Linked DNA regions of Homo sapiens: regions 2 and 3 are each linked to region 1. Evidence: fine-mapped expression QTL. A gene starts in region 1. Each other region holds a variant in brackets. All regions are shown on one strand. Distances are between the middles of the regions. Region 1 holds the start of XRCC1 (X-ray repair cross complementing 1). Region 2 overlaps ZNF575 (zinc finger protein 575). Region 3 holds the start of ZNF576 (zinc finger protein 576).

What was found. PIP is the estimated chance that this variant, and not a neighbour inherited with it, causes the effect.
Region 2: its variant is fine-mapped to the expression of XRCC1 in transverse colon (GTEx, PIP above 0.99).
Region 3: its variant is fine-mapped to the expression of XRCC1 in fibroblasts (GENCORD, PIP 0.95).

Annotation. Positions count from the first base shown.
Region 1 is chr19:43,569,525-43,580,315 of GRCh38, forward strand. It overlaps XRCC1 (X-ray repair cross complementing 1), which reads right to left and starts at 6,003. Exons shown (of 17, transcript NM_006297.3): 1 at 5,884-6,003; 2 at 5,386-5,478. The coding sequence starts at 5,934. It overlaps PINLYP (phospholipase A2 inhibitor and LY6/PLAUR domain containing), which reads left to right and starts at 6,277. Exons shown (of 6, transcript NM_001193621.3): 1 at 6,277-7,395; 2 at 7,591-7,737; 3 at 9,066-9,182. The coding sequence starts at 7,668. RefSeq lists a silencer at 5,957-6,116 and enhancers at 6,217-6,376, 6,377-6,903, 6,904-7,429, 10,691-10,750.
Region 2 is chr19:43,534,357-43,545,147 of GRCh38, forward strand. ZNF575 (zinc finger protein 575) reads left to right here. Exons shown (of 4, transcript NM_174945.3): 3 at 1-145; 4 at 673-1,731. The coding sequence starts at 67. The coding sequence ends at 1,331. It overlaps XRCC1 (X-ray repair cross complementing 1), which reads right to left. Exons shown (of 17, transcript NM_006297.3): 15 at 9,788-9,878; 16 at 9,256-9,331; 17 at 8,955-9,149. The coding sequence ends at 9,036. Among named protein-coding and RNA genes, the nearest start is that of ZNF575, 6.6 kb to the left of the region's middle. The variant C/T (reference allele first, on the strand shown) is at 6,586.
Region 3 is chr19:43,596,413-43,607,203 of GRCh38, forward strand. ZNF576 (zinc finger protein 576) reads left to right here and starts at 183. Exons shown (of 3, transcript NM_001145347.2): 1 at 183-331; 2 at 682-781; 3 at 2,419-4,745. The coding sequence starts at 697. The coding sequence ends at 2,846. RefSeq lists an enhancer at 1-217. The variant C/CA (reference allele first, on the strand shown) is at 7,255.

The sequences.
Region 1 (10,791 bases):
GTAATCCCAGCACTTTGGGAGGCCAAGGCAGGTGGATCACTAGAGGTCAGGAGTTCGAGACCAGCCTGACCAACATGGTGAAAACCTGTCTCTACTAAATACAAAAAATTAGCCAGGCGTGGTGGTGCATGCCTGTAATCCCAGCTACTTGGGAGGCTGAGGCAAGAGAACCACTTGAACCTGGGAGGCGGAGGTTGCAGTGAGCTGAGATTGTGCCATTGCACTCCAGCCAGAACAACAAGACGAAACTCCGTCTCAGAAAAAAAAAAAATCACAATAAATCATCTACAGCTACACTGAACGACATAGATGAAATGAACAAACATAACAAGGGAAGCCAGATAAGAAAAGTTTATACCACACGATTCCATTTTATATGCAATTCAAAATCAGGCAAAATGAATCTATGCTGTTAACAATCAGGACAGTGGTTACCCTTGCAGGGGTACTGACAGAAAGAACCTGAGGGAACTGCTGGGGGCTAGGCATGTTCTGTGCTGCATCTGGGTGTGGAGTACACAGGGCTGCAGTTTGCAAAGAGTCACTGAGCTGTACTCTTACTTACACCTTCACTTCACTCTATGTATGTTACACATCAAAAAACAGTAAAAACAAATTTAAGACACCACAGTGGCGAACTGAGTGATTAGAAAACCAATAACAATCAAAAATGACCATAGGCCCTATTGCTGATGAACATTTCTTCTAAAAATGACACACCTCCAGTGACACACCAGAGTTATATCTGGGTCTTGTCCAAGCCACCCCTCCAGCCCAGGAGTAGTTAGCAAAGAGGTTGGCATTTCCCTCTGGGAGCAGGTGATGAACAGACAACAGAGCCTGCTGTGGCTACTGCAAACAACCAGGTGTGTGGGGCTGTCATAAGCAGATGGCTAAGCCCCATGTGGTAAGATCGAGATTTTGCATAACAATAATTAGAGGAGAAAATGCAGGGTAGTAGAAGAACCCACAGATGTGGCCAGGTGCAGTGGCTCATGCCTGTAATGCCAGCACTTTGGGAGGCCAAGACAGGAGGACTGCTTGAGCTCAGGAGTCCGAGACCAGGCTGGGCAACATAGTGAGACCCCATCTCTACGAAAAATTTTTAAAATTAGCTGGGCCTGGCGGCACACGCCTGTAGTCCCAGCTATCTGGGAGGCTGAGGTGGGAGGATTGCCTGAGCCCAGGAGGTTGAGGCTACAGTGAGCCATGACTTTGCAACTGCACTCCAACCTGGGCAAGAGAGTGAGACCCTGTCTCAAAACATAACATAACAACCCAGAGATAAGCCTACTGCCTTGGTGGCCAGAAATGTCTGCCTTTATCAGTTACGTCAAAAGAATCAAAATTAGCATTTGATGAATCCAGAGTAACCCCACAAATTAGTCATTGCCAGATGCAATCAGTCATTCCAAAGGGTCTCTGACGTGGAGTAAGTTAACAAAACAACTGCTGCAATGCTGATCTCCCACTCCTGTGTGTGGCCCCTGCAGTTGATTGTCAACATGGAGCCAGCAGGATCCTGTGAAGGCCTAAGGCAGATCCTGTCCCTCCTCTGCTCGGAGCCCTCCGGTGGCTCCTATCTCACACCTGGAGTAAAAGCTCAAGTCCTTTCAATGGCTTTCCAGGCCTTAAGTGGTTTTTTAGGGGTTCCCAGTCCCACCCTGTTACCTCATCTCCTACCTCTCTCCCCCTGGCTGACTCCACCCCAGCCATACTGGCCTCCTTGCTGTCACAAGCCAGCTTCAGAGTCTTTTCCCTAGATACATACATAGCTCATGTTGCTCAAATGTCCCCTTTTCAGGGAGGCCTTCCCGGACCCTACTATTTAAATAAAAATCCTTGCCACTGCTCCAGCTCCAGCTGGGGCACTCTCATTCCCCTTCATTAAGTTCCTCCATAGCACTCATCATCCAACATATGTTTCACTGACTCATTTGTCAGTCTTTCCCTACTAACGTGAAAGCTCCACAAGACTGAATTTCTTTTGTTTTTAAGAGACAGCATCTCATTCTGTTGCCCAGGCTGGAGCGCAATGGTGCGATCATAGCTCACTACAGCCTTGATCTTCCAGGCTCAAGTGATCCTCCCGCCTCAGCCTCTGGAGTAGCTGGGACCACAGGCATAGGCCACCACGCTTGGCAGATTTTTGTATTTTTAGTAGAGATGAAGTTTCCCTGTGTTGCCCAAGCTGGTCTCGAACTGCCAGGCCTTGGCCTCCCAAAGTGCTGGGATTATAGGCGTGAGCTTACTGCACCCCACTGAGAGTGAATATTTTTTGTCTTCTGCTGTGTACTGCTGTATTAAAACAGTGCTTGGCCTACAGAAGGCACTTAATAAATACTTGACTAAATAAATGAGTGAATGAACAAATAAATCCATCATCTACTCCCGAGTCTATAGGTTCTTTCTCTGCACTGACAACTTCCCCACATTCTGTCTTCAGCTCCACATGTGATCCCCAACTGCCTCCTGGATGCCACCCCTAGAATGTCCCAAAGTCACATCAAACCTGGACATCCCAACTGAAACACATCACCTCCCCAAGCTGCTCCCTCTGGGGTTTACCATGTTGGTGACCGCTGCAATACTCCCTCAGTCTCTCCCAGGCCAGAGACAGGTTCTGTCTCTTCTGCCTCCAGTCACTCTGTTTCCACAGCAACTGGGGTAACAGAATGAAATGTGATTTCCCTGGAGTCACTTGATCATAAGAGAGCCCAGTGGAATCATCACCCACTAAGTAATAAAAACACAAATCCCTCCCTCTACACAAACACCTACATGTTGACAGAGCACTTGTGCAGACATTATGTCACCGAATTTTCACAACTCCGGGCTTGGATGTCATTATTCCCAATGGACACATGAGAAAACAGGTTAGAGAAATGAAACAATTTTCTTGAGGTCACCGATTAAGAGGAAGAGCTGGGGGCTTGAATCTAGATCTCAAGACTAAAACTGTCAGCAATCTGTATCTATCACAGTTTAAAAGACTGAGGTCAGGTGCAGTGGCTCATGCCTGTAATCCCAACATTTTGGGAGGCCAAGGTGGGTGGATCACTTAAATTAGCATTTGGTGCTCATTTGCCTTGAACTCCTGAGGTCAGGAGTTCAAGACCAGCCTAGCCAACATGGCAAAACTCGGTCTCTATTATAAATACAAAAATTAGCCAGGCATGTAAATTCCAACTACTCAGAAGGCTGAGGCATGAGAATCATTTGAACCTGGGAAGTGGAGGCCATTAGTTGACAGGCACTAAACACTGACATCAATTGGGGTGGACCAGATGATGTTACAGTAACAAAGGAGTCCCTAATCTCAGTGGTTTAAAACAACCAAGTTGTATTAACTTACACTGTAATAATGCTGTGTAACAAATCATCCTAAAACTGAGATCTTTTCTTTTTTTTTTTTTTTTTTTTTTTGAGATACAGTCTCACTCTGTCTCACAGGCCGGAGTGCAGTGAAACCATCACAGTTCACTGCAGCTTCAACCTTATGGGCTCAATCAATCCTCCCCGCTCAGCCTCCCTGGTAGCTGGGACTACAGGCATACGCCACCAAGCCCAGCTATTTTTTATAATTTTTCGTAGAGATAGGGTTTCCCCATGTTACCCAGGCTGGTCTCAAACTCCTGGGTTCAAGCGATTCACCCACCTCGACCTCCCAACATGAAAACTGAGACTTATACCAACAAGCATTCTTATAAGAATTTGTGGGATGGCTGCTTTGGCTGCAGTTTGGGAGGATTCAGGTCTCTTCCATGAGATTCCACAGTTTTCTGGGATTAGCAGTAACCTGGCAAATGTTCTCATGGCATATTATGGGAGCACAAAAGCCAAGTGCATTTAAGGCCCTTGCTGAAGTTAGATGTGCTGAAATTCCATTAAGTAAATCATATGGTCAAACTCATCAATGGAGCAGGGAAATATACTCCCCCTCCAGTGGGAGGGAGAGGAGTGGATATTTGCTGAATGACTGCCCATTCACAAAAGGTTAATTTTTCCGTCACCCTAGCACTATCCACAGAGTGTTCTGCTCCTTATAGTCATAAAGCAGCCCCCAGGCCAGGAACAATGGTTCATGCCTGTCATCCGAGCACTTTGGGAGGCTGAAGCAGGAGGAACGCTTGAGCCCAGGAGTTTGAGACCAGCCTGGCAACATGGTGGAAACCCCATCTCTAAAAAAATACAAAAAAAACTAGCCAGGCATGGTGGTGCACACCTGCAGTCCCAGCTACTCAGGAGGCTGAGGTGGGAGGATCGCTTGAGCCCAGGAGGTAGAGGCTGCAGTGAGCCAAGCCAAGATCATGCCACTGCACTACAGCCTGGGAACAGAGTGAGACTCTGTCTCAACAGATAAATAAAAGATTGACTGTCAGGCAAATTGTATAACTTCTTTGGGCCTCAGTTTCCTCATCTGTAAAAGTGGGGATAACAGAGCCTGCCTCTTGGGGTTTTTTATGAGGACTCAATGAGCTAATCCATGTGAGTGAGGTGTGTAGAGCAGCGACTGACAGGTAACGTTGAATAATGCCAGCTCTCATTATTATTATTTTATTTTTTATATTTTGGGGGTCTCACTCTGGTGCCCAGGCTGGAGTGCAGTGGCACAATCTCAGCTCACTGCAGCCTCCATCTCCTGGGCTCAAGCAATTCTCTCACCTCAGACTCGCCAGTAGCTGGGATTGCAGGTGCACACCACCATACTCAGCTAATCTATAAAATTTTGGTAGAGATGACATCTTACTGTATTGCCCAGGCTGGTCTCAAACTCCTGGGCTCATGCAATACTCCAGCTTCGGCCTCCCAAAGTGATGGGATTACAGGTGTGAACCACCATACCTGGCTATTATTCTTTAAAAAAAATTATTTATTTTAATAAAAATAGAGACAGGGTCTTGATATGTTGCCCAGGCTGGTCTGGAACTCCTGAGCTCAAGCAATCCTCCCATCTCAGGCTCTGAAAGTGCTGGGTTTACAGGCATGAGCCACGGCATCCGGCCAGTTTCCCCTTCTTTAAAGTGGAGTTGATTGGCTTAGACGACCTTCCTGGACACCTTCCAGCCCTGAGCCCACTGGCTGCAGGAGGCAGAGTACGTGGCAATGATTCATTTTGTTCCAGCTGAGGAAACTGGAACCCAGAAAGTAGATGCCACCTGCCCAGGACCACACACTGATTCCTGTGGTCATCCTGGACTTAATCCTTGGGTCTCCTTTCCTCTCTGCTGAGGGGCACAGGGATTATGCTGCCCATTTTCCGAGTAAGGAAGCTGAGGCCCAGCAAAGAAAGTGACTAAACCCACTGCCAGTTGGCTCAGGAGCAGAATCTGGAACCCCGGACTCCAGACTCCTAGTGAGGAGGAGGTGGGGTGGCAGGATCACCTGTAGGACCACAGAGATGGTCTTCTCGCCTGCCTTGGCTGCCCGCCATTTTCGGTAAGTGTCTGCCTTGAGAAGATTTTCTGCACAGTGAGTCTGGAAACAACAGTGGGAGAGGAGAATTAGGGCACAGAGATGACAGCTAGGCCTCCAGCTCTCAGATGATTCCTTTGAGTCCTCCCAAGGCCTCTACGACCCCCAGATTTAAGCTCTCCCGTTAATCCCCCGACACTCTGCCTGGAGTTTCCCCTACAACACTTTCCCGTGGAAGTTCACCTATGGGCTCTCCAAGAAAGCTTCCCTATTCCTCCTTTTCTCTCCGGAAGTTCCCTAGACGCCGGAACGTCCCTAATTCAACATCTCTCCACAATTCACTTTTAGCCTCCTGGAAATCCCCCCATGACTCTCCTTAGACTTCCAAGAGAACCCCAAAAGCTCTTTTAAGAGCTATCCTCATTAATTCCCTCACGTCTTCCAACCTCCCCCATGCAGGTCCCTCACCGAGTCCTGGCTGCTGCAGGACACGACATGGCGGAGGCGGATCTCCGGCATGTCAACGTCGTGGGCTTCGCCTGGCCAGAAGGATGAGGTAGAGTATGGGGTCCGAGGGGCAGGGAGAGTGGGAGGGGGCGGGGTGCGCCCTGCGCTGGCTAAAGTGCGCAAGCGCGCGAGGCTCGGGCCTTTCAAACCCCGGCGCGCCGGCGCCGGCGTCGACACTGCGCAAGCCCAGTCGCGCCTCTCCAGAGCGGGAAGAGCGCTGCGTTCCTTAGCAACGAGCGTTTCCTCCAGCCCCGCCTCCCTCCGCCACACACAACCCCGCTCTAGCCTCGCCTCCCAATGACGTCCGAACCCTGCTTTCTGGGAGCCTAGCAACAGAAGCGACCTCCGGGATTGGTGTCTGGAAGAAATTCGCCTTTCTCATTGCACGATGGAGTTACCGCCCACACTGAAGCCGAGAAAGCAAATCTTTTTGCTGTATTATTATTTATTTTATTTTTTAAAAATTTTTTGTTGAGACAGGGTCTTGCTCTCTCACCCAGGATGGAGTGCAGTGGCACGATCTCGGCTTTCTGCAACCCCTGTCTCCTGGGGCCAAGGGATCCTCCCACTTCAGCCTCCTAAGTAGCTGGGATTACACGCACGCGCCACCACATTCGGCTAATTTTTGTATTTTTTGTGGAGACATGGGGTGAGAGGGCGGCGGGTCTTGCCATGTTGCCCAGACTGGTCTCGAACTCCTCAGCTCAAGCGATCCACCTGCCTCGGCCTCTCAAAGTGCTGGAACTACAGGCGTGAGCGACTGCGCTGGGCTAGGACAGCAAATCTGAGTGAATTTTCGTAGTTTCGTAGGGAACCTGGATTCTACGCAACAGGATCTCTTCAAATGGCTCAGGCGGCTGCACTCTTCTCTCTGTCCCCTTGCCACACACACACACACGCACATATACATACATACGCGCGCGCGCACGCGCGAAAAAAATTAGCAGATCTCTTTCAGCCTTATGCCTGAGGCCAAAAGAGAAGGGTTCTGCGTCCTAAATATAACACAAAGCATGTGCCCAACCCCCACCACACACACACACACACACCCCTATCCTGGAGTTCTTCCACAAAAGCCTCAGTTTCCCAATATGTGGACTGTGGGCATCTGTCTTTTACTACGCCCGCCTATGACTGCCGACAGACATCCCTCTGTTCATTCGGTGCCTTGGAGACCCAAGGGTGCAGCCCTGGGTGGGGTCGCAGCTGGAGACAGCCCAAACACACAAGGAGTGTGAGCCGAGCACATGAAGAGAGGGGAAGGGAGACAAGGCACCCCGCACCCGCAGGACCAGCCTGGACATGCTGGGTGCTCCAAGGTGGGGCCCTACCCACACTGGGTGCTTCCTTGGGAGGAGAGGGGAAGAGAGAGAAGGAGAGGGAATCCCAGTTCTTGCAGCCACTGGGAATCAAGAGGCCCAACTCCGTCTTGGTCTTCAAGCAAACAAACAAACAACAATGGGCCGTGGGAAGGTGAGAAAACAGGGTGGTGACTTTCTGGGTTCTAATAGAAGAGGGGGATGGAAGCCCAGACTCCTGGGGTCTCCATGGAGGTGGGGGGCTGGGCACAAGATGCCCAGGTCACTTTTGGATTCTGGTTCTGCCTTCCCAACCCGGAGGCCACAGAGGACTGCCCTGGGTTCTGACCTCAGCTATTTCTCCCCGTAGGGTGAATGTGGGTCCAGACCCACCCCTCCTCAGCTTCCTATAAAAGCTGGGGACCAGGTACTGCTGATACACACACCATGAGGCTCTCCAGGAGACCAGAGACCTTTCTGCTGGCCTTTGTGTTGCTCTGCACCCTCCTGGGTCTTGGTAAGTGACAAGGGACCTGAACTGTCTCTGGGACCTCAGGAAGAGAGAGGTCCCAGATTGAGAGAGAGAGAGATATAGAGAGAGAAAGAGCCTTCAGCAAGTCCTCAAGGTGAACGGGGAGGCATTCTGGAAATTCAGATTCATGGAAGAGGCCAAGGGTAAAGGAAGAGAAAGCCTGGGGGTCCCAGAGAAGAAAAGCTCCTGTGATTGGATCCCTGAGAGAGGGGCTTGGTGGGCTCTGAATCCTCCATCCTCCAGGAAGGATCCCAAACACATCTCAATTCTAGGAAATCAGATGAGAGCATGGCTGGAAAGGGAAATCTTTAAAAATATAATTAAAAAAAAAAAAAGAGGGAGAAGGCCAGGTGCGGTGGCTCATGCCTGTAACCCCAGCACTTTAAGAGGCCGAGGCAGGTGGATCACTTGAGGTCAGGAGTTCAAGACCAGCCTGGCCAACATGGTGAAACCCCGTCTTTACTAAAAATACAAAAAAAGTTAGCTGAGCTTGGTGGTGGGCGCCTGTAATCCTAGCTACTTGGGAGGCTGAGGTGAGAGGATTGCTTGAAACTGGGAGGCAAAGGTTGCAGTGAGCCAAGATCGTGCCACTGCACTCCCCAGCCTGGGTGACAGAGCAAAACTCCATCTCAAAAAAAATACATTAATATCATATGATATATTTTTTTAAAAGAGGTAGAGAGATTTCCTTTCTCCTTAGACTAAGAAGTTCAGGCCCCAGCCCCCTCCTCCCCTGCACACAGGAGTCCAAGTAAGCCTCACTTTCCCCAGGACCCAGGTTTCTGGGCCCCTAGCTGTCCCCTCTCTCAGAACCAAGAAGTTCAAGTCCTCTGCCCTCCTGGTCCTCACTCTCCCTCCTTGACCTGGGATGCAGACCCTAGCCTCAGGGCCCCCTGCCTGAGCTCCTGCTGTCTACAAGACCTACATGGCACCTTCAAGGAGGAGAATCCCACATTCAAGAACCAGCTGGACCTGAAGTTTCACAAAAGTCCATGGAAACCTCCATCACGACCCCTCCCTGCCCCTGAGCTTTCTCAGCGGACCCTGGCATCCAAAATCCCCAGCCATGTAATTAGGCAAACAGGCTTCATGGTGGAGTCGCTTCCCGCCCCTGGAAGCAGCTTTGCTGGCATCACCACTGCTTCTTCGTCCAACTCTGGACAGTTCCTTGGGCAGTGGTCAACATCCCGCCCATGAAAAACCAGGGAGCTGCTGGTCCCTCCTCTCTCAGGACACAAAAGTCCTAAGTCAAAGTCGTGGTCCGAAGACCACACCACCCATGACTACAGCCTCGCCCTCTGTCTACACTGCAGGGTGCCCACTACACTGCGAAATATGTACGGCGGCGGGGAGCAGGTGCCATGGCCAAATGAAGACCTGCAGCAGTGACAAGGACACATGTGTGCTCCTGGTCGGGAAGGCTACTTCAAGTAAGAGGATGTGGCCTGGGACCTGGTGGGGAGGTGGGGTGTACCTTCAGGGTGGAAGAGACTACCATGCTGAGGGGGGATCATCATGGTTCTCAAGACGGGAGCGTGGGAAGAAATCAGTGGAGAGCAGGAAAGAGGGAAAGACCATCATGAGATGGAGGGAACAGAAATAAGTGGTGTGATAGAAATCATTATTGTCACAGAATTCTGAAAATGACACTGTCCTAAAGAGAAGGAAAATGTGGGAGGGGTGAGAGTTAATAGACTTTCTTAGGCAGAAGAGGGGTAAGGAAAGACACTGTGGGGGGCAGAGAAATAGTGAGAGGGGAAGAATCTAACTGGCAGGAGGTGGAAATGGTGGGGAGTGGATAGAGAAGGAAGAGGCTGGGCTGGGGTGGGAAAGTGTAAGTGTAATCAGGGAAGAGGTCATTCCTGACCGAGGGAGGAGAGATGATGGTGGAGTGTTGGAGTGGTGGAAGAGACAGAAAAGGGATCACCCCAAACAGGAGATGGATGATAACCTTGAAGTATGGAGCAAATCATTTTTTTTCTTTTTTGAGACAGAGTCTCGCTCTGTCACCCAGGATGGAGTGCAATGGCGCGATCTCTGCTCACTGCAACCTCCACTTCCCAGGTTCAAGCGATTCTCCTGCCTCAGCCTCCCGAGTAGCTGGAATTACAGGTGCGTGCCACCACACCTGGCTAATTTTTGTATTTTTTAGTAGAGACGGGGTTTCGCCATGTTGGCCAGGCTGGTCTCTAACTCCTGACCTCAAGTGATTCTCCCGCCTCGACCTCCCAAAGTGCTGGGATTACAGGCATGAGCTACCGTGCCTGGCTGAGCAAATCATCGTAAAGAGGAGAAGCAGAGACAGGGAGGGGGAGATGTGGATGAGTAAAATGAAAGGGAGGCCGGGCACGGTGGTTCACGCCTGTAATCCCAGCACTTTGGGAGGTTGAGGTGGGAGGATCGTTTGAGCCCAGGAGTTTGAGACCAGCCTGGACAACAAAAAGAGATCCATCTCTACAGAAAAAAAAAAAAAAAAATAGTTGCGCATGGTGGCACATGCCTGTAGTCCCAGCCACTTGGGAGGCTGAGGCAGGAGGATCACTTGAGCTTAGGAGATCGAGGCTGCAGCGAGCTAAGTGCACACCGCTGCACTCCAGCCTGGGCAACAGAGGGAAACCTGTCTCAGAAAATAAAATGGAAGAGAGAAGATGGGCATGAGTTAAATGAAAGAGACCACCCCAGACCTGAAAAATGATGGAGGAGAAAGGGAGCAATGGAAGAGACCAGTGGGGGACAGAGATGTTTATACAAAGCTGAAAGAGACTTTCAATCACAGGAGGAGAGATGATGAGGCCTGGTGAGGGAATAAAGGCGACTTTGGGTGCAGGGAGAAAACACTGGTCGGGAGAGGCTGTGAAAGGAAAGTGAGATCGAAAATCACCCAGCCAGCGTTGGTGGGTTAAGGAAGGACCTGAAAGGCTTGAAGAGAACCCCCATCCCGGCATAGAAGAGGAAACGCACCCTCGGGAAGGGAGGAGAGAGAGCTGGGGGACCCCTCGATGGAGTGAAGGGGGAACCTGTGAATTGGGTAGGAAGAGA
Region 2 (10,791 bases), 35 kb before region 1:
TCAGCCTGGTCATCACCGGCGTCACCCCCGCCCCGCGCCCTGCCCCTAGGTTCCTGTGCCAGCAAGATGCTGGAGCGAGGCGCGGAGTCCGCGGCCGGGGCTACCGATCCTAGTCCCACTGGCAAGGAACCAGTGACCAAAGAAGGTGAGAGTGCCCCGCCTGTGAGTAGGGAGCATTCTCCAGGAACGGGGGCCAAAATAATCACATTCTGGGGGAATCTCAGGGTGAAAATTTGAGGGCCCTAGGGTGATGACTATTTGGGATCCCCAAAACTGCCACATTCTGGGAAATCCTCCCATTTGGCTCAGAGAGAGCCTCAGTGACCATTTGCTAAGGCTCAGGAAATGAGCCTTACAGAAGGGACGGGTCAGGGATGACATGCGGGATGTCAGGGTGATCACTGGGAAGATACTAGAAACGGATACCTTGGTAGCTTTGAGGAAGCCTTAGTAGCTTTGGGGATCCAGGAAAGTAACCCTTTGGAGTCCCTCAGAATGACGCCTGGGGGGAGGGGGGAGCAGAAACATGCAATTTGGGGAGTCTCAATGTGATGCTTGAGGTGCCCAGGTACACTTGGAGGAGCCCCACGAATATCAAAGTCGTGGCGGAGCCTGGCCTAGGCCCAGGGCGTTGGCTGCTTCCTGGAGCCCACCAGCCCTCCTGTCCCCCAGCTCCCCACCAGGGCCCACCGCAGAAGCCCAGCCAGTCAGCTCCAGGGCCCACCGCGTCCGCGGGCTCGCCTCCCCGGCCTCGCCGGCGGCCCCCGCCCCAGCGCCCGCACCGCTGCCCCGACTGTGACAAGGCCTTCTCGTACCCGTCCAAGCTGGCCACGCACCGCTTAGCACACGGAGGCGCCCGACCCCACCCATGCCCAGACTGCCCCAAGGCCTTCTCCTACCCCTCCAAGCTGGCAGCCCACCGCCTCACGCACAGCGGCGCCCGCCCGCACCCGTGCCCACACTGCCCGAAGTCCTTTGGCCACCGCTCCAAGCTGGCGGCTCACCTCTGGACCCACGCACCCACCCGCCCCTACCCGTGCCCCGACTGCCCCAAGTCCTTCTGCTACCCTTCCAAGCTGGCGGCCCACCGCCACACGCACCACGCCACCGACGCCCGCCCCTATCCTTGCCCGCATTGCCCCAAGGCTTTCTCATTTCCCTCCAAGCTGGCCGCCCATCGCCTATGTCACGACCCCCCAACCGCGCCCGGCAGCCAGGCGACTGCCTGGCACCGATGCTCCAGCTGCGGCCAGGCCTTTGGCCAGAGACGCTTACTGCTCCTTCATCAACGCAGCCACCACCAGGTGGAGCACAAGGGGGAGAGAGACTGAGCCCTCCCTTGGCTCACTGTCCCCTTCTGCCGCCAGCCCTAGCCAGTAAGAGGTGGGATTTCTAAGACCGACTGTATGAGCTCGCCTCTTCCAGATAGCTGGCAGAGGGCAGGGCAAGGGATTGGCCATTTATACTGGGCTCGAGCTCAGAAGCCCGAGGAACTCTTTGCTCCCCTGCTTTGGGGAGATCTCAAACCATGGACGTGGAGCTGTGGTTTGACAGCGCTGGCTCTGCTTCTCCCCACACACTTACATGGCAAAGGTAAAAAGTCTGCTACTATCGTGGGTTGATGAGGATTGTGGGCAAACAGGCTCTCTTGTTAAAAGTTTAAACTGGTGTCTCCACTTTGGCCATATGACGGTATCTAAGAAATTGAAAATACATACATGCTTGTCTCAACTCTTCCACTTGTAGGAATTTATTCTATAAACTCATGAATGTGAAAAAAAAGCATAGTGTTAAGGGTGTTCACTGCAGTGCGACTGTTGTGGCCAAAGACTGGAAGCAACTCAAGTGCCCAAGAACAGGGGACCGACTATTGAATTACAGCCATGGAATGGAATAGGTAGCCATAGGAAAAAAGGAAGCGCTATATGTACTGATGTGGAAAAATCTCCGATACACTAGGTGATAAGAGCAAGAACAAAGGGTATATACCACTGACCATTTAAAGACATTCAAAAGCCCAAGCTTCAGGCTGGGTGTGGTGGTTCACGCCTATAATGCCAGCACTTTGGTTAGCTTGAGGCCAGTTCAAGAGCAGTCTGGGCAACATAGCGAGACACCATCTCTACCAAAAAAAAAAAAAAAGCTGGCTGTGGTGGCATGTACCTTAGTCCCAGCTACTTGGGAGACTGAGGAAGGTGGATCACTTGAGCTGGCAGGTCAAGGCTGCCATGAGCTGTGATGGTGCCACTGCCTTCCAGTCTGGGTGACAGAGCGAGACCCCATCTCAAAAAGAAAAACAAAAAAAGCCCAAGATTCAGACCCATCCCTGACCCACTTCTTACAAGTTGCCAGGCCTTGGACAAGCTTTGTCACTCCTCTGGATTCAGATGCCTTTGTTGTAAAATGGGTGGGTTATAAGGCATTTGTAAGGGGCAAGCAACACCTCAGGCAAAGTCAGTTCCCCTTATGGAGCCTGTTTCTCTCATTATAAAATAAGGATGAACAAGCTAACATTGGAATGTTCTTCATTCCACAAATACTAAGCACCTCCTGTGTGCTGGTCCCTGCATGGGGTGTTGGGGACACAGCATTGAAGACAGACCTTGTCTAGTGAGGAAAGTGAACACTAATTTTAAAAAGCAGCAGCAGACCAGGCAGAGTGGCTCAGGCCTGTAATCCCAGCACTTTGGGAGGCTGAGGCAGGCGGATAACTTGAGGTCAGGAGTTCAAAACCAGCCTGGTCAGCATGGCGAAACTCCATCTCTACTAAAAATACAAAAACTAGCTGGACATGGTGGCATGCACCTGTAATCCCAGCTACTTGGGAGGCTGAGGTATGAGAATCGCTTGGACGCGGGAGACGAGGTTGCAGTGAGCCAAGGTTGCACCACTGCACTCCAGCCTGGGCGACAGAGAGCCTGCCTCAAAAAAAAAAAAAAAAGCAGCAGCAGCCAAGTCATTCATTCATCCATGTGTGTATGTATGTAGAGACAGGGTCTATGTTGCCCAGGCTAGTCTGAACTTCTGGACTCCCACTTTGGCCTCCCAAAGTGCTAGGATTACAGGCATGAGCCACCATGCCCGGCCCCAAGTCCATTTAGAAGAACAAGTAGGAGAGCCTTGGCTCCCCACCCCCTCAACCCAGATACAAGATTACAAAGCTGTGCAGTAATGAAATTGGTGGTGGTGGCTTGAAAACGGGCCAGTGGAAGACAATTGAGAGCTCAGAAACAGACCTGTGCTTATGCTGACATATGACAAACTGGACCTGTAGACCTGGGAGTGGCAACCTTTTTCTATAAAGGGCCAAAGAGTACAGATGTCCCCTGACTTAACAATGGTTTGATTTCAGGATTCTCCAACTTTATGATGGGTTCATCCGGATGTAGCATCATTGTAAGTCAAAGGGCATTGGGTTTTTTTTGTTTTGTTTTGTTTTGTTTTGTTTTTTAGACAGGGTCTTGCTCTGTTGTCCAGGCTGGAGTGCAGTGGCACAATCGCAGCTCATTGCCCTGAATTCCTGGGCGCAAGCGATCCTCCTACCTCAGCCTCCCAAGTAGCTGGGACTACAGGCAAGCACCACCACACCCGGCTTATTTATTTTTGAGATGGAGTCTTGCTTTGTTGTCCAGGCTGGAATGCAGTGGCATGATCGCCGCTCACTGCAACCTACCTCTGCCTCCTGGGCTCAAGCTTCTCCTACCTCAGCCTCCTGAGTAGCTGGGATTTCAGGTGTGCACCACCATGCCCAGCTAATTTTTGTATTTTTAGTAGAGATGGGGTTTCACCATGTTGACCAGGCTGGTCTAACTCCTGACCTCAAGTGGTCCACCTGCCTTGGCCTCCCAAAGTGCTGGAATTACAGACGTGAGTCACTGCGCCCAGCCCCCAGCTAAATTTTTTTTGTAAATTTTTTTGTAGAGATGGGGTCTCACTATGTTGCCCAGGCTGGTCTCAATCTCCTAGCCTCAAGTGATCTTCCTGTCTTGGCCTCCCAATGTCCTGGGATTCCAGGCGTGGGCCGCCAAGCCCAGCTGCATCTGTTATATGTTTAAGTTTTGCAGGCCATACAGTGTCTTCCACAACTATTCCACTCTGCCACTGTAGCAGGAAAGCAGCCACACACATTACAATACATAAATGAATGAGCATGGCTGTGTTCCAATAAACATTTACCAAAACACTAGGTAGGCTGGATTTTGCCTATGGGCTATAGTTTGTTGAGCCTTGACATGGATGAGTGGAGGATGGACAGACTAATCATAAATAAGGCTAAGAGACATGGGGAAAAATTAAGTTGAATCCCCTGGTATGTAGAAGAATGATCCCCCAAAGATATCCACATTTGAATCCCCAGAACCTGTATGTTAGCTTGCATGTAGCAAAAGGGACATTGCAGATGTGATTGAGATGGGTAAGTTATCCTGATTATTCAGATAGGCCCAATATAATCACAAAGGTCCTTATATGGGAAAGAAGGACGCAGAAGACAGAGAGAGGTGATCATGAAAGCAAACATTCGAGTGATGAAAGGCCCCAAGTCAAGGAATTTTGCCTACAAAGGGCAAGGAAATAAATTCCTCCTTAGAGCCTCCAGAAGGATTGCAGCCCTGCTGACACTTGATTTTAGCCCAATAAGGCTGATTTTGGACTACTGACCTCCAGAACTATAATAAAATTAACTTGTGTAGTTTAAAACCACTAAGCTTATGGCAATTTGTTACAGCAACAATGGGAAACTACTGCAGATCCCTACCTCACACCATATGCAAAAACAAGTTTCTGGGAGTTTAAGATCTAAATCTGAAGAGAAGAACTCAAAAATATTTACATGGAAATAAGAAGAATTATCTTAGTAACTCCAGAAGTAGAGACAGTATCCTTAAGAGACAAAAGAATGTAAATCATAGATGAAAACATGGGTAAATGTGACCATAAATGAATGTAAAGTTATGACTAGGATGGATGAGATATAGTATTTTAAGAGTGTGTACCTGGCATATCCTATTATACAGTGGAGGTTAGGAAAGGCCTTGTTGAGGATGTAATGTCTGAACTGAGATCTGAAAGTTGTGGTGGAAGGAGTGAGAGAGTAGAAAGTGTCCATAGATTGGATAAAGAAAATTTGGTACATATACACCACGGAATACTATGCAGCCATAAAATGGAATGAGATCACATCTTTTGCAGGGACATGGATGGAGCTGGAAGCCATTATCCTCAGCAAACTAACGCAGGAACAGAAAATCAAACACTGCATGTTCTCACTTATAAGTTGGAGCTGAATGATGAGAACACATGGACATGGCCGGGCATGGTGCCTCACGCCTGTAATCCCAGCACTTTGGGAGGTGGAGGCGGGCATATCACCTGAGGTCAGTTCAAAACCAGCCTGGCCAACGTGGCAAAACCCCCCTCTACTAAAAAACAAAAATTAGCTGGGCGTGGTGGCAAACGCCTGTAATCCCAGCTACTCGGGAGGCTGAGGCACAAGAATCCCTTGAACCCAGGAGGCAGAGGTTGCAGTGAGCCAAGATCATGCCACTGCACTCCAGCCTGGGCGACAGAGTGAGACTCTGCCTCAGAAAAAAAAAAAAGAACACATCAGGGGAACAACACACACTGGGGCCTGTCAGGGGGTGGGGGTGGGGGGCTAGGAAGAGCATCAGGAAGTATACCTAATGCACGCTGGGGTTAATACTCAGGTGATGGGATGATCTGTGCAGCAAACCACCATGGCATGTATTTACCTATGAAACAAAACTGCACATCCTGCACATGTACCCCCGAACTTAAAATAAAAGTAGGAGAAAAGAAAGTGTCCAGCCTAAGGGCTAGGACTGAGCAGGCTGCTGAACTGCACTCTACTCAGTAAGGCATTTCGGGGAAGGTTTTGGGAGGGGTAAGGGTTCTACTCTGTCCTCCCAACCCAGCAGTGCTGCTTGTATCCACGTTTATGCAGAGAACTGTCCGGAAGAATTTCTCCAAAGCAACCACACCAGCAGCAAAATTTCAAAGACACATACTCATGTGAGAGGGCGTTGATCTGGTCCAACCTTACTTTTACAGATTGGGGAAATGAGGCCAGGAAAGATGAGATTTATTGGCAACCAAACCACAGGGCAGTACCTGAGTCTAGGTGGATCCTAGGTCTCTTGATAGCCTGACACCCACCCAGCTGTTCCTTGAACACATAATGCTCGCTCCTGCCTCGGGGCCTTTGCACTTGCTTTTCCTCTACCTGGAAGGGCTCTCTCAGATACTCCTTACTTCTCCCAGGTCCCTGCAGAGGGGTAAGTCCTCCAAGAGGCCATCCCCAATCATCCTATCTATAAACTACCAGGACCCTGCCATTGCTCTGTCACTCACAATGCTCTATTTTCCTTGCTCTCACAGCATTTCCCACTGTCCAAGGTTGCATTGCACGTGCACCATCTCTCTCCCCCTGTACAATGTCAGGCCAATGAGATCGGGGACTACTGTTTTTTTCATACTGTCTTCCCAGTGTCCCCCACATGGTGGCTTTGGTAGGCAGAGTAATGGCCTCCCAAAGATGTTCACATCCCAGCTGGGCACAGTGGCTCA[C/T]GCCTGTAATCCAGCACTTTGAATGGCTGAGGCGAGTGGGTCACCTGAAGTCAGGAGTTCGAGACCTGCCTGGCCAACATGGCGAAACCCCGTCTCTACTAAAAATACAAAAATTAGCTGGGCATGATGGCAGGCGCCTGGAATCCCAGGTACTCGGGTGGCTAAGGCAGAGAATTGCTTGAACCTGGGAGGCAGAGGTTGCAGTGAGCCAAGAACACACCACTGCACTCCAGCCTGCGTGATAGAGCAAGACTCCGTCTCAAAAACAAAAAAACAGGGAGATTATCCCAAATGATCTAGGTAGGCTTAATGTAATCACAAAGATCTCTTGTTGCCCAGGCTGAAGTGCAATGGCATGATCTCAGCTCACTGCAACCTCCGCCGCCCGGGTTCAAGCGATTCTCCTGCCTCAGCCTCCCACGTAGCTGGGATTACAGGCATATGCCACCACATCCGGCTCATTTTGTATTTTTAGTAGAGATGGAGTTTCTCCATGTTGGTCAGGCTGGTCTCAAACTCCCAACCTCAGGTGATCCACCCCCCTCGGCCTCCCAAAGTGCTGGGATTACAGGCGTGAGCCCCTGCGCCTGGCCTACAATAACAAAGATCTTTACATGTGGAAGTATGGAACAGAAGAGTCAAGGTCAGGGTGATGGGATGTGAGAAGGACTCAACAGGCCATTGCAGGCCTGGAATATAGAAGGTGAATGGAATGTGGGTGGCTTCTAGAAGCTGGAAAAGACAAGAAAACAGATTCTCCCCTCAAGCCTCCAGAAGGAACGCAGCCCTGCCTACCTTGATTTTTAGCCCAAGGATACCCATTTTGGACTTCAGACCTCCAAACCTGTAAGATCATAAATTTCTATTATTTTAAGCCACTGAGCTTGTGATAATTTGTTATAGCAGTAGTACAAAACTAACATGGTGAGTTATCGGTGGGAGTGTGAATGAGCAAACGAATGAGTGAACATGAAGTCTAAAGCCACCCTTAGCTGGGCAGTGTGGCTCAACACCTGTAATCCCAGCACTTTAGGAGGCCAAGGCGGGAAGACTGCTTGAGGCCAGAAGTTCGAGGCCAGCCTGGGCAACATAGTGAGAGCCCATCTCTACAAAAAATAGAAAATTTATCAGGTGTGGTGGTACATGCCTATAGTCCCAGCTGCTCAGGAGGCTGAAGCAGGAGGATCGCTTGGGCCCAGGAGTTCGAGGCTGGAGTGAACAATGATTGCACCACTGCACTTCAGCCTGGGCAACAGAGCAAGACCCTGTCTCTAATAATAATAATAATAATAATAATAATAATAATAATAATAAACCACCCTCATCTTAAAGATGCAAAAACAAAGGTCCAGAAAGAGACAGGAGTGAGACTGGTAGCCCTTGGTTGATGAGGCAAAAGTTGGGAAAGGGCTTGGAATGTCCAATAAAAGGTTACCCAAAGGTCAGATCTCAAACCTACCTCTGACCCTGGCCTCTGTCCTGCTCAAACCCCCTCCCAACCTTCCCACCCTCAGATTAAAGTCCAGGCTTCTCAGCCTGGAGTTCGCAGACCTTCAGGCCAGCCCTGTCCAAAAGACCTTTCTAGACTGATGCAAATGTTCTCTGTACTGCCTAATACAATAGCCACTGAGCAATTGAAATGCATGGCCAGTGTGACTATGGAAGTGAAGTTTACATTTCATTTCATTTCATTTTAATTAATTTAAATAGCCACCTGTACCCAGTGGTGATCACACTGGACAGCAGAGCTGCAAGGACTGTGCCTGGCTTTCTAAATCTGCCCCCAAAGCCTCTTTGCCAAAGGCAGCAATGCTCTTCTGCCTGCCTCAGGCTGCTTCCCACCTCCTGGCCCATGCTATGGCCTCTGCCTAGAGCACCATCCCATCCTCTGCCCTGATTCCCTCACAATCACCTCAATTCCCACTTAAATGTGGTGGAGCCTTGAAGGGGGTGCAGGGTTTGGGTAGGTTGCTTAAAATGTCCCTTCCTCCCATTCTACCTCCTAAATTAGGTGATGTAAAACCACAGTGGTGACATTCATTATACAGCTACTTCTGAAAACCCTGGAGGAAAGGCACTATCCCTGGCCTGGGGACGCTGAGGCTTCAGGAGAGAGACAAGCCTCATGGGTACCCAGGCCTCCAGCCACAAAGGGACAGCCAAGATACAGGTGTGGCTCAGAGGGCCAGAAAAAGTTGAGGGGCAGTGCTGAGGGTCAGATTCCCAGTTCCCTGCCTCTTGCCAACACAGGGATAAGGGGCCAAGCAGAAGAGACAAAGAGTTCCTTCTCTACCAGATCTCTGACGGAGGTGCCCAGCATTCTTCCCCAGGTCCCAGGGAGCCTCTTAGAGTTTTGGGAGACTCTTGGATGAGAACCAACTCATCTTTATTAAATGCATCGTGTGTGTGTGTGTGTGTGTGTGTGTGTGTGTGTGTGTATAGCACATACTTCAGGCTTGCGGCACCACCCCATAGAGCTGGTGAGGAAGTAACTTCTGCTTCTCATTGCAACTGTAGATCCATCGGGGACGAACGAATGCCAGGGAGGGGTTGTCCATCAGGGCCTGCAGGGTGGGGTGGAGTCCATACGGGAATGTGTCATCGAGGGGAGGACGGAGGAGATGCAAAGGTGTGCCCGGGTCTCCCATTCTCTGCCTCTTTGGTACTCACCTCCTCAAAGCTGGGATCCCATTCCTGTGCTGTGATCACAAACTGAACCCGGTCACTCATATAGTCCTCGAGCTCCCTGGCGGGAGAGAAGAAAAGAGGTAGAAGGCACATCAGGGAATCAGCACTGACGTCCTACTCCCCAGCCACTCTCAATGGCTGTCCCCACACTGTCCCCACCTATGCGCCTCTAGGTTGCCTCTAGGCTCCATTCTTTCATGTATCCATCTTGCCACAGCCACAATGACCAGAGCTCCCACAGTGGCTAATCCTCAGGCTGTCCCTTTCAGAAGCAGGGGTAGGGGTAGGGATCCTCGCCATACAGAAGAGGAAACTGAGGCAAGCAATGCACCCTGGGCTGCCGGTGGTGGGCAAGCTAGCATTCGGATTCCATGACCTGTGCCCACCTGCTGGGCATGGCCCTTCTCCATCCTCCTGATGGTCTTCTTTCCCACACCCCCACCCCTCCCAGCAGGTCCCTGAGCGTTCCCTTGGATCCATCACCCCTTCCCCACCCCAGTCCCTGGAGACTCACCCATTGAAGGCTGTGACGTATCGGATGAGTTTCCGCCGCTCGTCCCCAGGGAACTCCCCGTAAAGAAAGAAGTGCTTGCCCTGGAAGAAATCTGCAGGAGAGAAGGGGGCTAAGGTAAGCATGAGGCCCCAGGAGTTCCCAGGCACCAAACAGGAGTGACGAGGCTGACCCAGCAGCTGAGGAGAGGGCTGTCCACATGTGGGCAGGGATTGATGGCAGGCAGTGGACCCTGCCCAGCGGCCCATCAGAGCCTCCTGGGGAGGTAGGTTGGTTGGTTGGTTGGTTTGCTTTAATGGTAGAAGATACAATGCCTATTATTGTGATTTGTTTCTGACCGACAGGCTGGAGCCACTTACCTCTCTCTCTCTCTTTTTTTTTTTTAAGACAAGGACTCACTCTGTCGCCCAGGCTGGAGTGCAGTGGCGTGATCTTGCCTCACTGCAACCTCTGCCTCCTGGGCTCAAGTGATTCTCCCATCTCAGCCTCCCCAGTAGCTGGGACTACAGGTGCATGCCACCAAGCCAGACTAATTTTTAAACTTTTTGTAGAGAGACGGGGTATTGACATGTTGCTCAGGCTGGTCTCAAACTCTTGGGCTCAAGCAATCCTCCCACCTCAGCCTCCTGAGTAGCCAGGACTACTGAGTAGCACACCACCACGCTCGGCTAATTTTTAAAATGTTTTGTAAAGGCGGGGGTCGGGGGGGGTCTCACTATGTTGCCCAGGCTGGTCTTGAACTCTTGGACTCAAGCAGTCCTCCCACCTCGGCCTCTCAAAGTACGGGGTGAGCCACCACGCCTGGCCTGCCTGGAGCCACTTAATGAGCTTAGTCCAGGCTGAAAACGTCAGTATCTGCCACTTCTTCACCTTTGCTCTCCTTTCCAACCAGTGCCTTTCTTGTTCTGACCTTTGGGGTGGCTCCTTCTTTCCATTTTAAGGTGACTCTCTAGGCCATCAATTTGCTGATGCCACTTTAGGGGCTTGGGAGAATCAAAGCATCTTCC
Region 3 (10,791 bases), 27 kb after region 1:
CGACTATACTACTGCCGGATGGCAAATCCGGGATCTCGGCTCCGAGAGGCTCATCTGGCAAAAGGGCGCGGAAACCACGGGGGCCCTGAGACTGAGTGGTCCCTATCCCACTTCTCTCTGGGGCGGCGCTGTAGCCAGCGGCTGACAGGCGCAGCGAAAGGCAGCCCTCTGCTGTAAGGAGGAAAACTGAGGCCTGGGAGCAGGAACCTGTAGGCAGCGCTTGAGGGTAGCGGGATAGCAGCTGCAAGCGCGCGTGGGAGGCGGGGGCTCTGGGCGGAACAAAAATCACAGGATGTCAGAGGATGTTTCCCGGGAAGAACTGGGATAAAGGGTGGGTATCACTACCTGCCCCAAGACACTTGAGATTGGGATGACGCTGGTGTCAAAGATCAAGGCTTCCACGCTGAGTTCAGGGAGTTAGTTTGATGCAGCAGGTCATAGGTCACACCAGTGAGAAGACTCTAGGGGAGTCCCAAACCCAGGAAATCCAGTCCTTTGGGAGGTTTGAAGCTTCTTTTAGCAAGAACTCCATCAATTAGAGTTCAAGGAGATAGTATGTCGTAGGGGTCAAAGGCAGGCAAGGAGAGCCTCTGGCGATGTCAAAGGTCATAGACTTAGGGTGCCCTCTAAGACTGGTAACAGATGAACAGCTTCACTTATGCACGCTCCTCTCCTGACTAGAAGGGTCCCAGCACCATGGAGGACCCGAACCCTGAAGAGAACATGAAGCAGCAGGATTCACCCAAGGAGAGAAGTCCCCAGAGCCCAGGAGGCAACATCTGTGAGTACACATGGCTGGCGGGCTAGAGGAGGGTGGGGTGCAGGAGCTGATGCTAAGATCTCTGTGGCACTTCGGTGTCCAAGGCGCCACAGAGTTTTGCCTGTTGAGAAGGGGCTGTAATGGTCCCTGAGCTGCTCTAGCAGGAAGTGCATCTCCTCACACCAGCTTATGTGGCCAGAGTACTCACCCTCCTCTGGCCACATAAGCAGGATTGCAATGCTTATGCATTCAGAGGGATAGGGTGGCTTCCAGGAGAGGCTTGGGTTGGAGATGTGGCTGGGAATGGTTCTATTGGGAGAGAAACCCCAAGATTCTGGTCCCAACTCTGCCCTAGACTTTCAGTGTAACTTGGGCCTTGGTTTCCTTGACTGTCAAAAGAGGGTGGTACTTCCCACCTCACAGGGTGGGTATGGGATTAACTGCAGCAAAGGGGAAAGCTAGGGGTTAATGATGGTAGCCAGTTTGACATGTAATAGCAACACCTCCTGCTCAGTGTTTTATTATGAGCTAGGTGTATTTATTCTCATATTATGAACCATTTTAACATTCATTATCTCATTGAGTCCTTCTAATAATAGGCCCTTTAAACTGGGAACTGAGGCAGAGAGAGGTATTTGTAACAAGAGCTGTAGTCTCAATGCCCTTGAGCCAGAGACTACCAGGAACACACCTGCAGTTGAACACGTTGGGTTTCTCACTGCAATGAACACAGACCATGGGGGGACTGTGGGGTGTCTCACTAAGAATGGTAAAAACGACACAGGATTTGGGCTTGTGGGTGGTGATTTTGGGGAAGGTTCAAGCAAAATTGTTTTGCTCTGGATTGGATGCTACCAGGAAGCAGGGGCAATTCTATGATTGGCTATCGTAATAAATCTTACCCAGAAGGAGGAAGGAAGGAGGCGAGGCTCAAGCTCTGACTGATAAAGCAGCAGCAGACATTCACATTAGCCAGGATAGGAGGATGTTTGGTCATTTTTCTGCTTGGACAGTATTCATATTTTGTCTGTGCTCAGACATTATGATGATGTAGTCTTGTCTTGATTCATTTTAGTCACAGCGTGGCCTTGTCTGTCCTTGATATTCTGTGAAAATTTATGTTCAACAGAACACCAAGGTCTAGCTGTGAGTACCAGGCCAGATCCTGGATGTCGGGCTGGATTTCTCTGTATCATTAGTCATAATTGCAAATGACTGTACAGCAATTCATTTATTCCTTCCAACGGTCCTATGGAGTAGATACTGTTATTAGCCCATTTTCCAGATAAGGAAACTGGTGTAATTGCCTAGGAAGTGGTGGAGGTGAGATTCAATCCCAAGCAGTCTGGCTCCAAAGGCTGTGCTGTAATCACCATACCCCTCTGTTGGGCAGGCTGACTCTCTGGGTTCCAACCCTGGCTCCACCATTTCCTTTCCTAGCCTCATGACTATGGGCAACTTGCCTAACCTCTTTGAATCTCAGTTTGCTCATCCATAAAATAGGTGCAAGAACAGTTCTCCTGTTTGGTTGTCCAGCATTAGCATAGAACCTAGCACATAACACATTCAATGTTAATTGTTGGTGTGATTCTGGGGTTCAGGAAGAGGTCTTGGAGACTCCTGCTGGCCTCCCCTGACCTCTCCCCCACATTCCTCAGGCCACCTGGGGGCCCCGAAGTGCACCCGCTGCCTCATCACCTTCGCAGATTCCAAGTTCCAGGAGCGTCACATGAAGCGGGAGCACCCAGCGGACTTCGTGGCCCAGAAGCTGCAGGGGGTCCTCTTCATCTGCTTCACCTGCGCCCGCTCCTTCCCCTCCTCCAAAGCCCTAATCACCCACCAGCGCAGCCACGGTCCAGCCGCCAAGCCCACCCTGCCGGTTGCAACCACTACTGCCCAGCCCACCTTCCCTTGTCCTGACTGTGGCAAGACCTTTGGGCAGGCTGTTTCTCTGAGGCGGCACCGCCAGATGCATGAGGTCCGTGCCCCTCCTGGCACCTTCGCCTGCACAGAGTGCGGTCAGGACTTTGCTCAGGAAGCAGGGCTGCATCAACACTACATTCGGCATGCCCGGGGGGAGCTCTGAGTGCAGCTTAAGCCTCTCCACGGTGACGGGTGGCTCTGTGGCTGGTAGGACTCACCCATGATATGGGGTGCAGGAACTCTGGGGGCCCTGAAGGATTTGCTTCCCTCCCCTGGGAAGGCAGAGGGCTCTTAATAAAGAGGACCCAGAAGATTCTTATTTAGAGCTTCAGTCTTTGGAGCACACAGGGCCTTCGTGAGACAGTGAAATCAGATAATAATGAGATCTTTTGTTAAAAAAAAAAAATGGGAAGGGAGTGCGGGAGAGAAATGGTTTGTGTCTCCCTTATTCCCAGTTAAATACCTAGCTGCAGATTGTGCCATCACCCTTCATTCTTCCCAGATGGATGCCATGGGCTATGGGAGCAAATTGCCCTGGACCTTTGCCTGAATGGGGGCAGGAAAGGTGAGGTGTTGCTGGCCTGTAATGCCACCAGGTGAGTTCCAGATGTGGAGCAACTTGGGCTTTTGGGGATGGGGCAGCAAAGTTGGGAGCTGGACCCCAATTGAGTGGGGGTAGCAATTGGAGTCCTTGTGTCTCTTTTCCACCCCCTGCCATCCTCACTTAGAGGGGCCATGGCACTAGATGGCACTAGTCCCCCGATAATTTATGTCTCGTTGAAATAATTTTGTATATCATTCTAGTCCTGAAATATTTTTTTCATATGTGTAGGTGAAATGGTATGAATAAGCTAACAGGAATAGTATCTAAAAACAGAAAACATCCATATTAAAATGTCTAAACAGGGAGCTCTGGCTTTTGAGTGGGAATTTCCAGAGAACATAAGGGTGTGGGCAGGTGGGGGAACTCAGGCCAGAGTTGGCCTCGCTTTGTGGGGAAACTGGTTTGGAATCAAACAGAGATACCTTCTGTTTCGGGTTTTATTTGGCCAACACTGGGAGATTTCCCATTAAGATCCTATTTTCAGCTCTCTTGAAAGGCCCAACCTAGGCTGACATTGTCAGCAGGGGCAGGACAGAAGTTACAACAGGCTGGAGGGAGCAGTGGGTGTCACCCTCAACTGGAGATGAGTCCCACCAGGCCAGTTTTACCCCCTTAGTTACCTGCCCTGCACCTGCAGACAATGGTCGATGCCTTGCATATAATACTTATAGACTCTGTTTATGTTGAGGGATGTTTTTAAAGCCCACAGGTGAGGTGGATGTGGTAGACTGATCACTGTCTCTGTTTTTAGCTAGGCACACAGTAGCTGAAAAGACTGCATTTCCCAGATTCCTTTGCAGCTAGATGTGGCCTTGTGACTGATTTCTGGCTAAATTCCTGGGTAGAACAGTCAAGCTTAAGAAAGGGACGGCTGGGCACAGTGGCTCACGCCTGTAATCCCAGCACTTTGTGAGGCTGAGGCCGGTGGATCACCTGAGGTCAGGAGTTTGAGACCAGCCTGGCCAACATGGTGAAACCCTGTCTCTACCAAAAATACAAAAATTAGCCGGGTGTGGTGGCATATGCCTGTAATCCCAGCTACTTGGGAGGCTGAGGCAGGAGAATTGCTTGAACCTGGGAGACAGGTTGCAGTGAGCCAAGATCGTGCCATTGCACTTCAGCCTGGGTGACAGAGTGAGACTGTTTAAAAAAAAAGAAAAGAAAGGGACATACCTTTTTTCCACCTTCCTAACTGTAATACGGAAATGGTATCCAGCCATCTCAGACCATAAGGATAAGAGCAACACGTGGGAAGACAGAGCAACAAGATAGGAGCCTGGGTCTCTCGTCAATTTCAAGGAGCACAGCCACCATACCAGCCCACTTCCATATTGCTATCTAAGAAAGAAACTTCTATCTTATTTAAGCCACCATTATTTTGGGTCTCTGTCACATGCAACAGAATTTACAGCCTAAGACAGGGGTCTGCAAACTATGGCCAACTCTAGCCTGCTGCCTGGTTTTGCAAATAAAATTTTATTTGAACAGTTTTATACTCATTCACTTATGTATCGTTGATGGCTGCTTTTGCCTAGAACAGCAGATCTGCATAGTTGCAACAGAGATTTTAAGGCCTACAGAACTTAAAATAGTTACCATCTAGCCCTTTACAGGAGAAGTTTGCCAACCCCTGGTCTAATAAGACATTCAACCTACTCTGAGTCTGGAAGCAGAAATTTCCATCCTGGGAACCACCATCTTTACCAGGTAGGTAGGTAGGTAGGGTATGTGTGTGTGTGTGTGTTTTGGGGCAGGGCTACCCTGGATCTCTTTGCTGGGGTGACTTATGGGGAGACTGGTTGGAGTTAGTAGACCATCAGTTTTTTTCAAGATACCAACTTCATGAAGAGCCAGATATTTCCTCTGGCTCCTGGTGAATGCTCCGAAGTTTCCAACCCAGATATTGTCACACTACCCCCACAGTGGCTCCCCTAAACCAAACCTAAGTATCTAATCCCACATGCTCTCCCAAGATAGCAGCCTGCCCAAGTACACCCTGGGCTTCCTGTTCTCTCCAGACATCACAGATTCTCTAAATAGCATCACTGATGACATCCACATCTTTATCTGCAGCCCAAACCCCAGACATAAGATATAACCACTTGAATAAACAAATGGAGATCTCAAACTTAAAATGGGTCAACAGGACTCCTGCGGCCCAACCTGCACCACCATTGCCATCATGTTAGTAAACTGTGCACTCTTAAATTCTTTTTTCTTTTTTGAGTCTCACTTTGTCTCCCAGGCTGGAGTGCAGTGGTGTGATCTCAGCTCACTGAAGCCTCCGCCTCCTGGATTCAGGCAATTTTCCAGCCCCAGCCTCCCGAGTAGCTGGGATTACAGGTGTGCACCACTATAACTGGCTAATTTTTTGTATTTTTAGTAGAGACGGGGTTTCATTATGTTGCTCAGGCTGATCTCAAAACTCCTGGCCTTCAGTGATCTGCCCGCCTGGGCCTCCCAAAGTGCTGGGATTATAGGTGTGAGCCACTGCACCTGGCCTTCATTTTTTTTTTTTTTTTTTTTTTCCCCTTCAGACAGGGTCTCGCTGTGTAGCCCAGGATAGAGTGCAGTGGTAAGATCTTGGCTCACTGCAGCCTTGATCTCCTCAGGCTCAGATGATCCTCCCACCTCCACCTCCCTCCCTGTAGCTGGGACTACAGGTGTGCACTACTATGAACAGCTAATTTTTTGTAGAGATGGAGTTTCACCATGTTGTTCAGGCTGGTCTTGAACTCCTCGGCTCAAACAATCCGCCCACCTCGATCTCCCAAAGTGCTAGGATTACAGGCGTGAGCCACCGTGCCTGGCTGACTTTCAGCCTTCTAACACCTGTGTAACTATTCCCTGTATTAAATCCTCTTTGGGGAATGCCTGGCCTGACTCCATATCCTGAATGGGTGCTGGCTGAATGACCCAACTCCTGATTGATAGTGCCTCTTGTGATCCTTAGGAATATTTGCCAATGGATGGAAATTCTCTATATTTGTCCTTAGAAGTCCTGTCTTATGGCAGAAGACAGGATGGGGTGCTGCTCCAGGAAACAAAACCTATGATCACACTTATCCATGTGCTATAGTTGAATGTATGTGTCCCCCTAATATTCATATGTTGGGAACCTAAGACCCCATGTGATAGTATTCAGACATGGGGCCTTTAGGAGATGGTTAAGTCACAGGGGCTCTGCCCTCATGAACAAGATAAGTGCCCTTAGAAAAGGACCCAAGGGAAGTAGCTAGGCCTTCTCCCCTTCCATCTCTCCTACCATCTGAGGACACAGCATTCATCCCTTTCTGCCACCTTCCACTGTGTAAGGATGCAGCAAGAAGGCACCAACTTGGAAGCAGAGAGCAACCCTTAATTAGACACCAAATCTGCTGGTTCCCTGACCTGGGACTTAACCACTCTCCAGAACTATGAGGAATTAACCTTTGCTCTTTATGAATTACCCAGTCTCAGGTATTTTGTTACAGCCGCACAAACGGACTAAGACTCTGTTGTTTTAATGAGCCTGGAATTTCTGCTGATGATTCTGAGGTTCCATGATGCTAAGCTATAGTGGCTAGGAAAGTCTCAGTTCAGAGTGTATCAATGTCAGGTTTGGAGATTCTGGGATGAGAAACGTGGGTTTTGAAAAATGCTTTGGTCTGAAATCCTGTAATAGGTGTCAAAAATGTAAATGCTGGCCAGGCACGGTGGCTCACGCCTGTAATCCCAGCACTCTGGGAGGCCAAGGCGGGCGGATCATTTGAGGTCAGGAGTTCGAGACCAGCCTGGCCAACATGGTGAAACTGCATCTCTACTAAAAATACAAAAATTAGCCGGGGGTGGTAGTACCGCGCCTGTGGTCCCAGCTACTCAGAAGGCTGAGGCATGAGAATCGCTTGAACCCAGAATGCAGAGGCTGCAGTGAGCTGAGATCATGTCCACTACACTCCAGCCTGGGCGACAGAGCGAGACTCCGTCT[C/CA]AAAAAAAAAAAAAAAAAAAAAAAAAGCAGATGCTCTTCAGGGCCAAGCAGGCAGGGTAGGGGTGTCCAGATGTGAGGCATTGGTGACTGGGCACATAAGAGTGAATGCCTCCCCTACAGAAAGTGACTCCTTCTCAGCACCAACAAACCACTATCCCCATGGGAACTGGGGGTTCAGCAATATAGATCTCACAATTTTCGAGACAGTCCAGAAACTTCAATTTTTTTAAATGTGAAATTACCCATTTTTCAACATTGGTAACCAACGTAACTTAAAAAAATTCAATAGCTCTGTGGAGACCAGATACACTCCTCTAAGTCAGATGGTGGCTGTGGGCACTAGACTGCCATTTCTGGTGTGTGGCTTAGTGGTTAAGAGTGGATGCACCTGCATCCAGTTGTCTGGGTACAAACCAGGGCTCTGCTGCTTACTGGCTTTGTGACCTCTGGCAGGTAACTCAACCTCCCTGTGCCTCTGTTGTAGCAGATTTTTTTTTTTTTTTGGAGACGGAGTCTTGCTCTATTGCCCAGGCTGGAGTGCAGTGGTGCAATCTGGGCTCACTGCAACCTCCGCCTCCCAGGTACGAGCGATTCTCCTGCCTCAGCCTCCCAAGTAGCTGGGACAACAGGCACGCACCACCACACTCAGCTAAGTTTTTGTATTTTTAGTAGAGATGGGGTTTCACCATGTTGGCCAGGCTGGTCTCAAACTCCCGACCTCAGGCAATCCACCTGCCTTGGCCTCCCAAGCTGCTGAGATTACAGGCATGAGCAACCATGCCTGGCCTGTTGTAGCAGTTATAAAATAGTCATAAAGGTAGCCTCTAAGGATTATTATGAGCACTCAGATTACTGTGAGGACTCAGACTTGGAGACAATGCCAAAGTCAGTATATGGCTCTTACGGCCTGGTTCTCCGCTACTTTCTGACCTCACCTCTTACCTGTCTTCCTCAGTTCCAGCCTCGTGGCCCTGTGTTCTCTTCCCAAGCACCCCAAGTGGGCTCCCACCTCGGGCCATTGCATTTACTGTCCCCACAGACAGCCACAAGGCTCACTCCTGCCCCTTCTCTAGGTCTCTGCTCTGATGTCATCTCAGTGAAGCCTTCCTTGACCACCCTACTTAAAACTGCAACCTTCACACACACAAGCTTCCCACCCTGTTCCTTTTTCTCCATAGCACTTATGACTAACATTCCATAAAATTTGTATTTTTTTTTTTTTTTTTTTTGAGACAGTCTCGCTCTGTCGCCCAGGCTGGAGTGCAGTGGCGCGATCTCAGCTCACTGCAAGCTCTGCCTCCCGGGTTCATGCCATTCTCTTGCCTCAGCCTCTCCGAGTAGCTGGGACTACAGGTGCCCGCCACCATGCCCAGCTAATTTTTTATATTTTTAGCAGAGACGGGGTTTCACCGTGGTCTCAATCTCCTGACCTCTTGATCCGCCCGCCTCGGCCTCCCAAAGTGCTGGGATTACAAGCATGAGCCACCGCGCCCAGCCACAATTTGTATATTTTACTTAAATACTTGATTACTGTCTTCCCCATTATAACCTCCACAAAGGGAGGGGGTTTTTGTTCATTGTGTTGACTGCTATATTTCCAACTCCCAGAGCAGTGCCTGCCATCTCATAGGTGCTCAATAAATCATTGTTGGGTGAATGAGTAAACAAGTAACAGTCCCTAACTTGTAAGGATCTGATGTGACTGTCCACATAAAGCACTGAGCCCAGGGCCTGGTCCACCGTGAGCGCTGACTTAATGATGGCCATTACAGTAATTCAGGTTCTATTCTTGAAGGTTCTTAGTCTCCAACCTTCTATGAGTTAACACATGTAAAGCGCCTTAGAACAGGGCTGGTTGCCCAGTAAATTCTCAGTAAATGATAGCTATTATTATAATTAGGCTTCTATTTTCAAAGTAGCTTCGGCGCCAAGCTTCTGTGAATTACGAATTAGTACTTCCCATCTCTGAGCCCAAGTTTTGGCAAGGCTGTAAAGAGCTGGTCCTTTGCTACCCTTTGACCTCATCCCTACAGCTCTCGCCTCCTTGGCACACCAGGCAGGCTCCTGCCTCCTCCAGCCTGAAGTGCTCTTCCCCATTGATGTACATGGCTCCCCCCGGCTTCAGATCTGTCACCTTCTCAGGGAGGACTATACTCTTTAAAATTGCAACCTCCTTCCAGAACAGTTCTCCCTTCAGTCCTTTTTTAAATTTTTTTCTTGCAACAAATTCCTGCCATCATCCAGGCTAGAGTGCAGTGAGCACAGTGGCACAATTACAGGCCACTCCAGCCTCAACCTCCAAGCCTCAAGTGATCCTGAATAGCTGGGACCATAGGCATGCACCACCAAGCCCAGCTAATTTAATTTTTTGTAGATGGGGTCTCACTGTGTTGCCCAGGCTGGCCTTCAACTCCTGGGCTCAAGAAATCTTCCCACCTCGGCCTCCCAAAGTGCTGGAATTATAGGTGTGAGCCACTGCACCTGGCCTTCCTTCAGTTTTTTTTTTGTGTGTGTGTGTGTGTGTGTGGTTTTTTTTTGAGACAGGGTCTCACTGTTGCCCAGGCTGGAGTGCAGCGACACTTCTTAGGCTCCAGCAATCCTCCCACCTAAGCCTCCCTAGTACTAGGACTATAGCCGTGTACCATCGTTAGCCCAGCTAATTTTTTGTATTTTGTAGAGATGGGGTTTTGGCATGCTGCCCAGGCTGGTCTCAAACTCCTGGGCTCAAGCGATCCACCCACCTCAGTGCTGGGATTTCAGGAGTGAGCCACCATGCCGGGCCTCCTTTCAGTGCTTTATTGTTCTCACAGCATTTATCAGCACCCGGCATATGCTGTATCTTACTTGTTTATGTCTGTCTTCACCAGCAGCCTCTACCCACTCCCATGTAAGCTCCATGAGGACAACGATTTTATTTTATTCACTGCTGTGTTCCCAATGCTTAGCACACAGCAGGTACTCAAAAATATTTGTTAAATGAATTAATGGATCACAATCCCTGTCTCACAGGGTTATTCTAAGAAGCTGATAATCTCATGCAAATTAAGTACAGCACTCTGTAAGTGCTGGGAAAATGGCAGCTGCAATTATCATTAAGGTTCTATTTTTGTAAGTTCCTAGATGCACCATTTCTATGAGTCAATATATATAAAGCCCTTGGACTGGCACCAGATACCCAGGAAGCGCTGAGAAAGCGTAGCTGTGATTATAATTAAAGTCCTCTTTGTGGAAGTTCCTAGGCTATGTGGCAGAAAGCCCTAGCTGTCCTCCATGAACTGTTTTCTGCTTTCTGGGCGCTTGGCTAGACTGCTTCTCCCAGGTTGTTTTTGCAGTTAGCTGCGGCCACATATCTAATTTCTCAGCAAAGGCGTGTCAATGGAAGCAGTGTGTGCCCCTGGCAGGCCAGGGCTTGTAAGACAACACGTGCACCTCACCAGGCATCCTGTCCTCTTCTGCCAGCAGGACCCAGGCTATGGCCACCCAGTCTGGACCATGGGGGAGACAACAGGCTTAAGGGATGGCCTGGGTCCCCAAATG